2 separate regions of the Homo sapiens genome follow, and region 1 is linked to region 2. The links come from fine-mapping of genetic effects on gene expression. Tissue or cell type: amygdala. Region 2 holds a variant in brackets; the other region holds the start of a gene. All regions are shown on one strand. Distances are from middle to middle.

Region 1 (8,104 bases), 300 kb after region 2:
CCACAACAATGTTTATTGAAAAATTTCCCCTTCTCAGTGACAGTTTTATTTAATATCAAAGTTAGGTTCTTAAAAGATAATTTAAAAGTTGAAATTCTCTCAGTTTTACATATAACTTCAAGATGATTCAACACCATTGGTACCATTTGGCCATGTTTTCATCCTCCCGAAATGTTTTGTTAAATGGGGTCTGGAATCCCAGAGATTCTCATCTGCTGCTGCTATGAAGCAAAATTAACTCAAGAGTGGAGTGAAGGTGTTAGGTCAATGGGGTGAAAACATTAATTGAGGACAAAGACTAGATACTTTTAGGGAGAGGGATAGGGATACAATGATGTCATTATAGAATTACAAGCTAAAGTTCGCAAAGGAAAAGAATCAGTGTAAGATGAAACAGGCAATGTTTGCAGCACTCAGGAACCAAAAAAAGGTCTGAAAAAATAAAACCGGAAGATTCAGGGATAGTTTCCTTTTATTCCTAGGGATCCGCTCTCACTCTTCTCTCTTCTGCTCTGTGCCCTAAGTTGACCTGGGATGGATACATGGACTGCCCTGTGGCTTCTGATTAGGTTCTGGTTAGCCCCTGGGACACCCTAGGCAGAAGATCAGAGGGGAGAAGAGTAAGGCTGGAATATTTATCTGCTTCCATCTTTCTCCCTATGAGGTCTCTGCAGGCTGGCTGCATCCCTGTACTCAAGGCCTCTATCGGACTTCCCCCTCCGCACAATTTTCTCTCTGGATTCCAGTAATTCTCTGCCCTTCAGACCTGGGGCACTGCCTAACCCTGAGGTTTCCTACACTGCCCACAACTTCATAAACAGTCTTGTTCATTATGAAATTACTCAATTCCAATATGCTGTTTGTTTTCTGCCAGGACCCTGATTAACACACTCAGTCTCATTAGCCTCCCAACACATGTTTATTGAGTAACTACCACATCCCAAGGAGGAATAAAATGATCAATTAGAGAATCAATGCCTTCAATAGGGCAGTCTGAGAGTGGAGACAGCCAGAGAAGCAGATCCTTATATTACATCCTGACAGGTGACACAAGGAGGCACTGGATGGGGAGGTCAGTGGGATATAAAAGTCTGGGCAGGGGCAGACTCAGGGAAGGTTTCTCAGTGGAGATGGGGGTCAGGGAAATTTAGAGGCAGTGGCGTGGGTAGGAAGTGGTCAGAAGCTGCCAGAGCAGTTTACAGCCAAGGACATCAGGGCCAGTCAGGTTGTGGTAAGAGACTGGCAGGGGGTGCTAGGCTGGACCAGATCAAAGAAAGCCTTGTGCTGGGGAAAGGTATCCTTCTCTTCCATTTGCTTACTCTCCCCACCAAGGGAAAAATAATGACACAGGTGAGGTCTACAGCCTTTTACTCTGAGCCCTTAATCCTGCCCTACTACCATGGCTTGCCACTCCTATTTCCTTAGCCTGCTTTGAAAATCATCCCCGTATACTTCCTGCACATTCTAAGGTCTTTCAAGACGGCAACAAGACAATATAGCAAAGTAGTCCTTGGAGATGAGCTACAGAAGAGGGCTAGAAGTGAACGTTCCCAAATGCATTCTGGAAGCCCTGGCAGTCAGAACCCTTTTTCTTATAATAGCATTAGATAATGCTGACATTGTTTTTGTCCAGTGGAGAAGGGTGAGGATAATGTTGGAAAGAGGGCAGGGAGCAAGCTTCACTTCATCAAGGAGGGGCTTTGGTTCAAATTGGTTTGGGTGGGCGGGCACTTTGAAAATCCATTTGTCACACTAAACGGCAAGTCCAGGTCCAGGAGGTTCCTGTCTTCCCTCTCTCAAGAGCAAACTGCAAGTAGTTTCATTGCAGGATAAGGCCAAGCCCACCGCTGCCCATGCTGTTTTTGTTTTGTTTCCAGACAGAGTCTAGCTGTCACCAGGCTGCAGTGCAGTGGTGCGATCATACCTCTCCTGAGCTCAAGTGATTCTCTTGCCTCCACCTCCCAAAGCCCTGGGATTACAGCTGTGAGACACCTCATGGGGACCCGGTTTACTGGGTTTTTTTTGTTTTTTGTTTTTTGTTTTTTTTTGAGACAGAGTCTCACTTTGTCACCCAAGCTGAAGTGCAGTGGTGCAACCTCAGCTCACTGCAGCCTCGACCTTCTGGGCTCAAGTGATCCTCCTTCCTCAGTCCCCCAAGTAGCTGGGGCTACAGGTGCATGCATTTGTATTTTCAGTAGAGACAGGGTTTCACCTTGTTGCCCAGGCTGTTCTCAAACTCCTGGACTCAAGTGATCTGCCCGCCTTAGCCTCCCAAAGTGCTAAGATTACAGGTGTGAGGCACTGCGCCTGGCCTTTACTGTTAACTTAAAACAAAAAATTATAAATTTGAAAAAAGAGGAGACTTTATTTCTTATAAAAGGTTATAGCCTGCAAGGAGGCCATTCCATAGGCTGATAAACATAGCCTCTGGCCTAAGACCAGAGACAGGCACTTGGAAGGCAGAGGGGTTGGGGTAGGAGCTTTATGCTGAACAGTTTGGCCAAACATACATACGTAACAGGTTACAGGAGGAGCTATGAATATTAATGGAGGTGGTCCTTACACATGCATATTGAACAAACATGCATGTAACATGTTCTCTTTGGGGTGGAGACTTAACATTTAATTGTATTACTTCAAATACATTTAAATGTATTACTTCAAACCTACACTTCAAAAGGTCTTTTCAGGACGTGAATGCATACAAGTGCACAATCCCTGTACACTGGCCAGAACCGGTCCATGGTCGGTCTTCTTATCATGAAAAAGTTCCTGAAATCAGCCCAGTGAAAGCTGTAGTTCTGGCTGGTGCAACAGGGGTTCAGCTGGTCAGCATCTGTGAACTGATTAAGTTGTAATTGTTTTAATATTGCTTATCTCAAGCCAGTGCTTGTTTAGCCTCTAGAGGAAAAGAAAACCTTTGTGGCAGTTAGACCATAGTTTATTTCTTAAGTGTAGGAGTGTGTGACTTAGGTCCTTTTTATAATTTGATGTCTTATTGCTACAAAGAGTCTGTTCTGTCCGCCTTATGATTTCTATTTTAAACATTAATGCTAGTCAGCTGTTGAGTCTAAATTCCAAAATGGAGGGGGTAGACTTCCCTTCCGGCTGTAGCTAGAAACTCAGCTTTAAGGTTTTTCTGGGGTCTGCTTGGCCAAGGAGGTCCATTCAGTCAGTGAGGGGCTTAGGATTTTATTTTTAGTTTACACCACCTTACAGGTTCCTCCTTAACACCCTTTGATGTCAGAGACAGCCAATTCTCCAGCACTGTGGCTAAGGAGGCTTCGTTAGTAGTTAAAAGCACACACATAACCCTACCCAACGGATCCCTCTCTTCTCTTAACCAAGAGGGCGCACCACTGCCCTACTCAACCTCCCCACAAATAAGGACGAGACACGGGAAGTGTTAAAAGCAAGTGGTGAGTATAAAATCCTCGGAATTTTCTCTTTGAGCAACTAACTAGGTCTGTTACTGAAGCCCTCTGCGAGCTTGGATGCTGGACGAGGGAGAGGGTGAGGCCACCAGGCAATGAGCGCCCTCGGCGGCCGCGTGATCCCGGGGGTGGGGCCCATTTCTGAGTTGGGGCCAGCTCCCCACCCCCAAGAGGCCCCACATTCCGGGCCAGCAGCCCAGAAAGTCCCTCCCCGCAGGCGGAGACAGCCCCAAGAAGTCGACGCCCCGGTCCCGCCGCCCGGCCACTACCCAGAGGGCTGCCGCCGCCTCTCCAAGTTCTTGTGGCCCCCGCGGTGCGGAGTATGGGGCGCTGATGGCCATGGAGGGCTACTGGCGCTTCCTGGCGCTGCTGGGGTCGGCACTGCTCGTCGGCTTCCTGTCGGTGATCTTCGCCCTCGTCTGGGTCCTCCACTACCGAGAGGGGCTTGGCTGGGATGGGAGCGCACTAGAGTTTAACTGGCACCCAGTGCTCATGGTCACCGGCTTCGTCTTCATCCAGGGCATCGGTACTGGCACCTCCTGGGGGGGTGCGGGGAGGAAAGCGGGGAGAACGGCGGGGGCAGAGGGTCCTCCGTGAAGCCCCTTCCAGCTGAGGAAGTGCTGGAGGATCGCGGGGCCCGGAGGAGTGCGGTGAGGAGCGCGCGGGAAGCCAAGTCGGCTGGGCGGGAGGGAGGCTGGCTGGCTCTGGGGCGGGACAGAGCTGCGGTTCAGGAGGATCGCCGCGAGCGCGGGGCCGGGGGTGCGCGGTGGAGACGCGCTGCTGGGGGCGGCGGAGCGGGGCCGGCCCCACTTGGTTAACTCTTTGCGGCGACTGGCTAGGACGCACTGGAGGGGCCTCCAAGACCCAGAAACTTGAGCCCGGGCGCGATGCCGGAGCGCCGCGCAGTCGGGCCGCTGCAGCCCACGCGCCCCGGAAAGTCGCCCCTGTGGACCGAGCCTGCGCGATCGGGGGCGCGGAAACACTTTCGCCTCAGCCTTTTGCTGAACTTGCTTCCAGGCTGCAGATGAGGAGGGGAAGGCAGCGGGGAAAAGATTGCCGGAGCGAGAATTTGCCCGTATTTGTAACATCCTCGGCCCTGGGTAAAGGGGCTGGCCAAGGGGGGCGAGTGAAGCATCCGCCCTGGGTTCCTCTCCTCCTAGAGTGTTAAACTCAGTCGAGTCCGGGAAGCTGCCAGGACTTCCAAGTGTGTTTCGCCGCCCTGCCCAGTCATTGGACGGTCTTGAGCCCGACTTGTTTATGTGGCAGAAGAGTGGCGAAAGTTCCCCCGCGGGGCTTCCTATTGGGCACTGGCCCAGCACTCCGGGTGGGAGATGCCCGGAGAGGGCCCGCGGCTGCCTGGCACCGAGGGATGCCTCTGCTCGGGATGCCCCCGGCGCAAGCTGCGTCCGTGTTTGGCCCGCGGCGAGCCAGCCCCGGGCCTGCATTCTCTGGGCTGAGGCTGGCGCGGGGGAGGGGCTCAGCAGTCGCTGGCAATGTTTGTTGTCATTGTGTAGTGCCTCTCAATGTCCTGACTGCTTCCTTCGGTTTGCCGTGTAGCTGGAGGAACCTCTAGCTTTTGGCGCAAACACCATTTATTTGTAACCACTTCCCCAAAGGCACGGCCTTCAGAAAGTAGTTAGAGAAAGGCAGCAAGGGGTGGAGTGGTGTTATGTCGCAGAAAATAATCGAGAGGAGTAGCAAGGGTTTGGAAAGATATGCCCACTGGCCGAAATCTCTAGCTTTGCCTGCGGGCAGGCTGCCTTTTCTTCACCAAATATTTAACTCCCCACAAACGAGTGTGCAAAAGAGTGCTGACCTCATTCCTAAAGAAAAGTGATTTTGGCTTTTGTTTTTGTTGGTTGTTTTAAACTTGTACTGCAGCTTTGGCAAGTGTGGCCAGCATTCTCCCACTCTGGAATGTAGTGGAAGGTGTTACTAACCCTCAGCATTCAAAGGCTTCCCTGGTGTGAGATCGGCATCAGGGTGTGAGATCGGCATCAGGGTGTGAGCACCACTGGGCACCTAAGGCATTTCGTTGCGTAACTCTCAGTTATTTTGCCACTATGCTTATAAGAAAAAAACATACTCAAGTTCCAAAGTAACTGTCAGAAGCACTCTTTCCTTCGTGGTGGAGCCCTTAAGTTTGGCCCCGAGCTGTCTACACCTTGTTTGCTCAAAGAGTAGAGCCAGTCTCCTCTTCTACCCAACTCTTCAGAGCAGCTTCTAATACCAAAAAGCTTTCTGGAGGTCTTGGAATATCTTCTCATAATTGAGGGTAAGGGAAACACAAGTGTTATTGCTCGTTGCCTGACTTGCCACAGAGGAGAAGACATCAGAATGGCTAATAGTGATTGCATGCTGTGTGTCCACTAAGTGCATTATGTCACATCACATGTATGTAAGAGTAAACTGAGGCAGAGAAGTTATGTAACTTACCCATGAAAGTTGTTTTAAGTCTTTTCAGTGACCTTATCGTCAAAGTTGGATTCTCTGCTTTTATGGCAATATGCTTATTTTCTGCCAAATCTTTTTAGACAGCGAAAACCTTCATCTAAAATATGTTTTGAAACTCTTCATTCATGTTAGAGTCCAATATACGGTTTTCTAAAAGGTTTTTAAATTTCTCTAAACTTTGTACTTCTCTTAATCTGTTCATACTTAACTCTTGGACAAAAATGTGTAAATTTTGGCAATTTTCATCTGCTGCTCTTACGAAAATCTTGTTTCTTTTTTTCTTTCTTTCAAGACGTAGTCTTGCTCTGTCGCCCAGGCTGGAGTGCAGTGGCGCAATCTTGGCTCACTGCAACCTCCACCTCCCAGGTTCAAGCAATTCTCCTGCCCCAGCCTCCCCAGTAGCTGGGATTACAGATGCCTACCACCACGCCCAGCTAATTTTTGTATTTTTAGTAGAGACGGGGTTTCACCATGTTGGCCAGGCTGGCCTCGAATTCCTGACCTCAAGTGATCCGCCTACCTCGGCCCCCCAGACTGCTGAGATTACAGACGTGAGCCACAGTACCCGGCCGATCTTGTTTTCTTTAGGTTCAATTACTGTATTTGTATCAATGGTCCAGAGTTTGTCCCGTCATTACTCATCCTGTTTCCTGTTTGGATCCTGGATGTGCAAATCACTTTAATCATAATGCATTTAATTGACATGAGCATAAATGTTTTCATACATGTAGGCACATGTATAGTTCTCCCCAGTTCTTCCATATCTTGGCCAACCCATCCACATTCCTCACCCTAAGTATTAGGAAGGCTCCAGTGGAAGGAGGGGGAGTAATAAATAAACTTTATAGGCTGCGAGGGACCCACATGTTACAGACTCGCCATGTTATAACAGACTTTTTTACCGTGTGTGATTGCTGCAAGGAGGAAAATTTTAGGCTATGAGATTTCAAATCTCTAACAAAGAACACGATGTATTGGAGTTCTTCTCTTCTGTAATACACAAATATTTGGAGATGAAGAAGAGAAGGCTAAAGTACAGTTATTACTCTAAGTATAAAATGCTTTAGAAATGCAATATACAAATAGTAAACAATATTTGAAACTAAGAACAAGTATGAGTCCTTTGAAACACCTTTAAGAAGTAGGCTCTGGGCCGGCACAGTCCAGCTACTTGGGAGGCTGAGGCAGGAGAATTGCTTGAACTCGGGAAACGGAGGTTGCGGTGAGTCGAGATCTTGCCATTGCACTTCAGCCTGGGCAACAAGAGCGAAACTCCCGTCTAAAAAAAAAAAAAAAAAAAAAAAAAGAAGTAGGCTCTGGCCGGGCACGGTGGCTTACGCCTATAATCCCAGCACTTTGGGAGGCTGAGGCGAGTGGATCCCCTGAGGTCAGGAGTTCGAGACCAGCCTGGCCAACATGGTGAAACACTGTCTCTACTAAAAATACGAAAATTAGCTGGGCGTGGTGGCAGGCACCTGTAATCCCAGGTACTCAGGAGTCTGAGACAGGAGAATTGCTTGAACCTGGGAGGTGGAGGTTGCAGTGAGCCAAGATTGTGCCACTGCACTGTAGCCTGGGCAACAGAGTGAGATTCTGTCTCGAAAAAAAAAGAGGGATAAACTCCAAAGAAGCAAAGCTAACATAGAAGTTACAAAACAAATCTCCCTCTCCTTCTTTATTCCCCTTTCCCTTTCTCGCTCACCCTCTCTCTCCTTGTCCCATTTTCTCCTCTGTGTCCCTCTCCCTTCCTTTCCCCCTCTCTCTCCCCTCCTTTCCCCCTCTCTCTCCCCACCTCCCATACTCCAAGTATATTTTGGAATATGTATATATTCTAAATTAAAGTATAACAGATCATGGGAAATCTAAAACTAAAATAAAATTTTAAACTAGTGGGAAATCTAGCTAACAGACTCTAACATGAATGAGGAAGGGTTTAGAAGAGGCTTTGTGCTTCTCTGAAAGAAATGTTTCCCATGAAATAAGTATACTACTAGGAAATCAGAGAAACGAACCTTGAAAAGAGGGCCACAGAAAAGACTGAAACAAATAAACGCTGTCAAAGTGGCTGTTGACCTTTTAAAAGGTTCAGCAAGGTGGAATGTGTTCTTTAGTGAAAGGTAGAAAATTCGGGTGTCTACATTTAGCGAAAAGAAGTCTTGGCAATTCTATATTCCTTCCTTTCCTGTGTAGAACTCCTTTTATTGTATAAACTGAAG
Region 2 (8,104 bases):
CTGATTCAGTTAAGTCTGCAGTGAGGCTGAAAAATTTGCATTTCTATTAAGTTCCCAGGTGATGCGAAGTTGCTGGTCTTGGAAGAACCATACTTTGAGGACCAATGTATGATAAGAACTTAGAATCCCCTGGAATTTAGTAATTAATCAATCAGTCATAAGCTGCACTTTTATTATTTCTAACAAATTACTTTCTATACTTTGCTTCAACTCCTGAATTAGTAACCCCTCAAGGTCTTCCAGCTAAAGAATTCTGTGATGTTTAAGTGAGTCAAGACAATGGGCCTTGATTCAGCAACTGAAGCCTGACTCCGCCTGCAATCATGTTCTCTTTCAACTCTTTTCTTTTTTTTTTTGAGACGGGGCCTTGCTCTGTCTCCCAGGCTGGTGTATAGTCATATGATCATGGCCCATTGTAACCTCTAACTCCTGGGTTCAAGCAATCCTCCCATCTTAGTCTCCCGAGTAGCTGGGACTACAGGTTGGCAACACCACACCTGGCTAATTTTTGTAGTTTTTGTAGAGGCGGGCACTTGCTATGTTGCCCAGGCTAGTCTCAAATGCCTGGGCTCAAGTGATCTGCCCACCTCAGCCTCCCAAAATGCTGGGATTACAGGCGTGAGCCGCCGTGCCCACTCTCTCTCTCAACTCTTTCAGTATCCTCTCCACCTCACCTTCCACTCCACCTACATAAAGACACTAACATTCAGTTTCATAGGAAAGAGGATGGCTTATTGTGTTTAGTTTCCAACACAAATACAGAACAGAGTGCTCTTCTCCAAGTCTTGTCAGTTGTGATGCTCTTTTTCCTCAGCGATCTGAGGGAATCAAGTCTGCATTCAGGCTCTGCTGTGGCTGGAGTTAGGTCACACTAGGCAGAGCAAATCTGCTTTAAGAATGTCCAAGACAGGCACGGTGATGTATTGCTCTTACTCTGATAGAGCCTACAGGTCATTTTAAGTTGAAATCCAAAAGGAACCAAAGGAAATTTAAATTATATATATAGGCTTCCCTAATAGTGATATATTTTCCTTGAAAACATTTCAATCAATTGTTTTTCAGAGGTTGGTTGTCCAAAAGAAGAAATATTTCTCTGGGGGCTTTGGAAGTCTCTTGACTTTATAGTCTGTCAGAGGCCAAGAAAGGCAATTTAGTAGCATAGGCAGTGAGCAGCTGCCCACTCCTCGGAAGTTCGGTTCCTCTTAGAAGGAGGCCCCAGCGGGTACATGCACGCGGTGGAACGCTTTATTCCCTTTAACAATATGCGCACCACCACCCCTTTCTAGTGGGAATTGATTACAAGAATAATCAACTCATGGTTCCTCATTTTTCATAAAATTAGCTAACACATATCAAGATTCTCTTTGTGCCAGGCGTTGTTCTAAGGACTTTCCTGGCATTAGTTCACTTAATCCTTATAACAATTCTGTAAATTCTGTTATTATCTCCATTTTACAGACAGCAAACTGAGGCACTAGGAATTAGTTAACTTGCCCAAGGTCATACCTGTTAATAAGAGGTAAAGATAGTATTCAAACTAATTCTGGCTCCAGAGTTGCACACTAACCACTATGCTGCCTTAAAAAAACAAGGGCCGGGTGCAGTGGCTCACGCCTGTAATCCCAGCACTTTGGGAGGCCGAGGCGGGCAGATCACGAGGTCAGGAGATTGAGACCATCCTGGCTAATACGGTGAAACCCTGTCTCTACTAAAAATACAAAAAATTAGCCGGGTGTGGTGGTGGGCGCCTGTAGTCCCAGCTACTCGGGAGGCTGAGGCAGGAGAATGGCATGAACCCGGGAGGTGGAGCTTGCAGTGAGCCGAGATCATGCCACTGCACTCCAGCCTGGGCGACAGAGCAAGACTCCGTCTCAAAAACAAAACAAAACAAAAAAACAGAGAATAACAACTTACGAGATTAATGAAATCCAGAATTCCAAGGTCTTATTTGACTTGTCTATTTGACAAGTAGAAACTATTATGGGTTGAATTGTGTCCCTCCTCACCCCCTAAAACATATGTTGGAGTCGTAACCCCTAGTACCTTAGAATATGACCTTATTTAGAAGTAGGGCCATTATAGTTGTAATTAGTTAAGATGAGCTCATACTGGAGTACTGTGGGCCCCCAATCCAATATAACTGATGTTCTTAAAAGACAGCCATGTAAAGACAAAGATACACAGGGAAAACGTCATGTAACAACAAAGGCAGAGATTGGAGTTATGCAGTTGCAAGACAAGGCATGCCAAAGACAGCCAGCGAACCATCAGAAGCTGGAAGAGCCAAGGAAGAATTTTCCTATAAGATTCAGAGGGAATGCAGCCCTGCCTTGATTTCAGACTTCTAACCCACAGAAGTATAAGGCGACACATTTCTGTTATTTTAAGCCACTCAGTGTGTAGCACTTTTTTACGGCAGCCCTAGGAAACTGATACCAAACTGATGCATTTATCCTCCCTACTTTTTCACTGTTACCTCCTACCTTCCAACAGCAGTGCCACAGAACAGGAGTCCCACTTGTTAGGGAAAGAAACAAAAACCTGAGTTATTCATTCATTCAGAGCCTGGCATGATTGCTGCCACATTATAGATGCTTAATAAGTGTTTGTTGATTGAATGAATTCTTCCAACATTTATGAAGGGATTGCTTTTTGCAATGATTATAATAAAAATGGGACAAACGAACTTACAAATCAAGAGTAGACAGTAGATACCATTCTCCCTCTCAAATCCACAGGTAACTTGGGAGGTATTATTACTGAAGTTTCTTCCAGCATCCCTAACATAAGGAAAAATGACCATTTTGAGAACTGGTTTCTGGACCCTCCTGTTCCATTGATCTCTTTGTCAGTTTGGGAGTCGTATTTCACCTCTTTTCCATTTCCTTGCCCCCCTCTGGTGGAGGCGCTAATGAATGGAGAAGGGTATGAAAAGCAGACAGCAGGAGGGAGGAACACAACTCCCAAAGCTGATCATGAGGGCTTGGATAATTGAGAGGACACCACTGTCAGATGGCAGAGAAAGCACTCTGAACATGCTTCAGACATTAACATCTAATGAAAGCTTATAAAGGTACTTTGAAACAGGTTTGCCCAAAGTCAGAGTGAAATGATTATTCTGAACAAAATTCAATAAACAAGTTGAGTGAAAAGAGAGAACAAAGAAGAGTACGTGTAATATGGTCTTATTTTTATAAAGCAATAACAAAAATTTCTGCATATATATGTGTGACTAAAATTGTTTGTGTACATTTATGAATATTTAAAGTTGTATGAACATGGACAAAGATGGGGAAGAATACCGTATTAGTTTCCTATGGCTGCTATAACAAATTGCTACAAACTTGGTGTATTAAAACAACAGAGTAAGGCCGGGCATGGTGGTTCATGCCTGTAATCCCAGCACTTTGGGAGGCGGAGGCGGGCAGATCACAAGGTCAGGAGATCAAGACCATCCTGGCTAACATGGTGAAACCCTGTCTATACTAAAAATACAAAAAAATTAGCCAGGTGTGGTGGCACATGCCTGTAGTTCCAGCTACTCGGGAGGTTGAGGCAGGAGAATTGCTTAAACCCAGAGGCAGAGGTTGCAGTGAGCTGAGATTGCATCACTGCACTCCAGCCTGGTGACAGAGGGAGACTCCATCGCATAACAAACAAACAAACAACAACAACAACAACAAATAACAACAACAAAAAAAAAACAGAGTAGTCAAATTCATAGAGACGGAAAGTAGAATGGTGGTTGCCCATAGGCTAGAGATGGAGGGGAATAGAATGTCGTTTAATGGGTATAAAGTTTCAGTTTTGCCAGATGAAAAGAGTTCTGGAAGAGACTGGTTGTACAACAATGAAAATGTACTTAACACTACTGTACTATACACTTAAAAAGTTGGTGTCTTAGTTCATTTATGCTGCTATAACACAATACCTGAGACTGGGTAATTTATAAACAATGGAAATTTATTTCTCGCAGTTTTGGGGGCTGGGAAGTCCAAGATCAAGGTGCCAGCAGGTTTGATGTCTGGCAAGGGCTGCTCTCTGCTTCCAAGATGGCACCTTGTTGCTGCATCCTCTGGGGGGACTAACCCTCATGTTAGTGTCCTCATGTGGAGAGGCAAAAGTGCAAAAAGGGGGCAAATACTGTGTGAAGTTCTTTTGTAGGAGCCTTAATCCCATTCATGACAGAGGAGTCCTCATTAACTAATCACCTCCTAAAGGCCCTACCTCTTAATACCCTTGCATTAGACATTAAGTTTCAACCTAAATTTTGGAGGGAACA[C/T]AAACATTCAAACCATAGCACATAGTAAATTTTATATTTTGTGTATTTTGCCAAAAAACCCACAATTTTTTAAAGCTTTACCTTTGAGGTAGGTATTGTTTTCTAGCCCCATTTTGGAGAAAAATAAGGTGCAAGAATATGCCCAAGATCACAATGATAGATTCAAATCCAGGACGATTTGACTCTAAAGGCCTTGCTCCTAACCATATCAAAAGTAAAATAAACAGTCTCCAATTATTAAAACAAAACAAAACCCCATAAAATTGTTTTCTTTCAGTTCTGGAGACCAGAAGTTTGAAATCAGCTTCACTAGGCCAAAAGCAAGGTGTTGGCAGGGCTGCACACCCTCTGTAGTCTCCAGGAGAGTTCATTCCTTGCCTCTTTCAAATTATGGAGGCTGCTGGCATTCCTTGGCTTGTGGCTGCATCACTCTAATCTCTGCCTCTGTGGTCACATTGCCTTCTCTTCTGTGTGAATCGAGTCTCCCTCTGTCTCTCTCTGTCTTAGTTCAGGCTGCTATAACAAAATACCATAGGCTGGGTGGCTTATAAGCAACAGAAATGTATTTCTCATAGTTCTGGAGGCTGGGAGTCCAGCATTAGGGTGACAGCATGGTCACATTCTGGTGAGGGCCCTCTTTTGGGTTGCAGACTGCCAATGTCTTGTATTTTCACATGGCAGAAAGAGTCAAGAGAGCTTTCTGGGGTCCCTCCCCCCACCTTTTTTTTTTTTTTGAGACAGGGTCTTGCTTTATCACCCAGGCTGGAGTGCAGTGGTGCCATCTTGGCTTCCTGCAACCTCCATCTCCTGGGTTCAAGAAATTCTCATGCCTCAGCCTCCTGAGTAGCTGGAATTAAAGGCACGTGCCACCACATCTGGCTAATTTTTGTATTTTTAGTAGAAATAGGGTTTTGCCATGTTGGCCAGGCTAGTCTCAAACTCCTGACCTCAAGTGATCTGCCCACCTCGGCTTCCCAAAGTGCTGGGATTACAGGTGTGAGCCACCACTCCTGGCCTCTGGGGTCCTTTTTTAAGGGCACTAATTTAATTCATGAGTGCTCTAACCTCATGACCTAATTACTTCCCAAAGTCTCTAGCTCCCAACATTATCGCTTTGGGGGTTAGGGTTTCAACATAGGAATTTTGGGAGGACACAAACATTCTGTCCATTGTACTCTTTTTGAAAGACTCTGATTGCATTTAGGGCATACCTGGACAACTCAGAATAATATTTCCATTTCAATATCCTTAATTTAGTTAAATCTGCAAAGACCCTTTTTCCATATAAGATAACATTTCCATGTAAGATAACATTTACAGGTTCTGGGAATTAGGCCCTGCTATCTTTTAGGGACCATTCTTCAGCCTCCCAAAGATGTGTACTACATCATCAATATGAAGGGAGCAGCATGGCAGCCAGCCTTCAAGATGAGCCCTGGTGATTTGCCTCTTGATATTCATGCCTTTTCGAAGTCAGCTCCCACAAGGAATGAGAGCTGTCTGTGTGACAAACATAATATGGCAGAAGTGACAGTGTATGATTTCCAGACAAAGTCATAAAGGATGTTACGGTTTCTGCCTTGCTGCCTTTGGTAGCTTGCTCTGAGAGTAAGCCATCATGTGGGGACACTCAAGCAGCCTCATAGAGAGACCCACATGGGGAGGACTATCGCCTCCCACCAACAACCAGCACCAACTTGCCAATTATGTGAGTGTGACACCTTGGAAGTAGATCCTTGATCGTCAAGCAAGCCTTTAGAGGACTGCAGACTTAGAACTGCTCAACTAGCCAGCCAAGTTTCCCCTCACCCATACAACTATGAAGATAGTGTTTGTTTTTTTTTTTGAGTCATTAAGTTGGGAAGGTGATTTGTAATACAGGTAGTGATGTGGGAGAAGGAGAAACCAAGCCTCCTTCATTGCCCCTCTCACCCCCTAAAAACCCTATCCTAAACAAATAAACAAAACCTCCTCATCCTACCCACATATTTAAATAAAATTATATATTTTTACAATTTCCACAGAGAGGCCAGGCTCACGTCTGTAATCCCAGCACTTTGGGAAGCCAAGGTGGGAGGATCGCTTGAGCCCAGGAGTTTGAGACCAGGTTGGGCAAGTTGGTGAGTCCCTGTCTCTACAAAAAATTTAAGAAACAAATTTCCACAGAGAAAAATTGGGGCTTATATGTTAATAATCTCTAGGAATAAGTAATGGACTTGAGTGGCACACAGCATTCCACATTTCTGGGAGCAGAGAGCACATTTCTGGTTTTGTCATAGTTATCCTTTATTTTCTTTTACCAGGAAGTGTAATGAATATCTGTTATCATTACTTAGACACTGTCCATTTGCTTTTCTTCTGGTAACGGTGGCCCACTTTTCATCTGGGGAACTACCCTGAAAGGACAGCGTAAGGAACAAAAAAATGAAAAAGAACTAGATTTGGGGTCAGAGCTGGATGCTCGGCGTATGACTTCAATAATCCTTATGAATCAAACATTTAAAGGAGTGCCTATTGTGGTACTGCCCTGCACCTCACCGAAACTTCATGAACACCTTGGAGGAAAGAAGATGATGCATTGCTTTATAAGCTATTTTTTAAAAATCCAAAGCTTTCCATTGCCTAAAAATTAAACATGGATTAATTTAAAGCATTCTACAATATGGTCCGATCTATTTTTCTAGTCTTCCCTTCCTCTTCGTGGCTGATGCATATTTCTCAGCTCAGGCTGCCTTAACGAGTGACTTAAACAACACACATTTATTTTCTCACAGTTCTAGGGGCTGGAAACCAAGATCAAAGTGCCAGTAGGGTTGGTTTTTGTTAGGACCTTTCCTCCTGATTTGGAGACAGCCACCTTCTCACTGTGTCCTCACATGACCTTTCCTCTGTACACATGGAAAAAAACATTTCTGGGGTCTCTGTCTCTTTTTATAAGAGCACTAGTCCTATCCGGTTAGGGCCCTACCCTTATTGGGCCTTATTTAACCATTATTACCTCCTTCAAGTCACCATATCCAAATACAGTCACATGGGGGGTTAGGGCGTCAGCATATGAATTTTTTGGAGGACACATTTACTGCTCACCAAATACCCATGCGTTCCTCAACATTTCCCAGGCCTCTTATAGTCAGTCAGGATTGTGTGACTGGTTCTGGCCAATTAGCTGTTGACAAAAAATACATATGTCCCTTTTGAGTGAAGCTTTTAAATGCTGATGCATGATCCTTCAATTCTCCCTTCTTTTCTCATGGCAACCTACAAGCCAGCTATAAAATGCTGTAGACTCCCTTATCCTGGGTCTGTGAATGGCTATGTGGGAAGACAACCCCAGTCCCACTAGACATGCATCACAAATTAGAAAGAAACCTTTGTGGTGTTAAGTCTTTGGGATTTCAGGGTAAATTTGTAATTAAGCAAAACCTACTATTTCCTAATTCTTTTTTATTTATTTATTTATTTATTTTTGAGACAGGGTCTTGCTCTGTTGCCGAGGCTGGAGTGGGACGATCACAGCTCCCTGCAGTGTTGACATCCCCAGGCTCAAGCCATCCTCCCATCTCAGCCTGCCCAGGAGCTAGAACCAAAGGCGCACATCACCATGCCTGCCTAATTTTTTTTGTATTTTGTAGAGACAGGGTTTTGCCATGTTGCTCAGGCTAGTCTTGAATGCCTGGGCTCAAGTGATCCACCCCCCTCTGCCTCCCAAAGTGGTCTTTTTAAATCTTTATGGCTACATAATAGTTTACATATTTATGGGGGACATGTGAAATTTTGATACAACCATATAATGTGTAATGATCAAATGAAGATAATTGGATA

What was found. PIP is the estimated chance that this variant, and not a neighbour inherited with it, causes the effect.
Region 1: CYBRD1 starts here. The variant in region 2 is fine-mapped to the expression of CYBRD1 in amygdala (GTEx, PIP above 0.99).

The regions. Positions count from the first base shown.
Region 1 is chr2:171,518,779-171,526,882 of GRCh38, forward strand. CYBRD1 (cytochrome b reductase 1) reads left to right here and starts at 3,696. Exons shown (of 4, transcript NM_024843.4): 1 at 3,696-3,960. The coding sequence starts at 3,768. RefSeq lists an enhancer at 3,785-3,894 and silencers at 4,005-4,114, 4,265-4,334.
Region 2 is chr2:171,214,603-171,222,706 of GRCh38, forward strand. It overlaps a transcript of TLK1 not described here. Among named protein-coding and RNA genes, the nearest start is that of TLK1, 58 kb to the left of the region's middle. The variant C/T (reference allele first, on the strand shown) is at 4,283.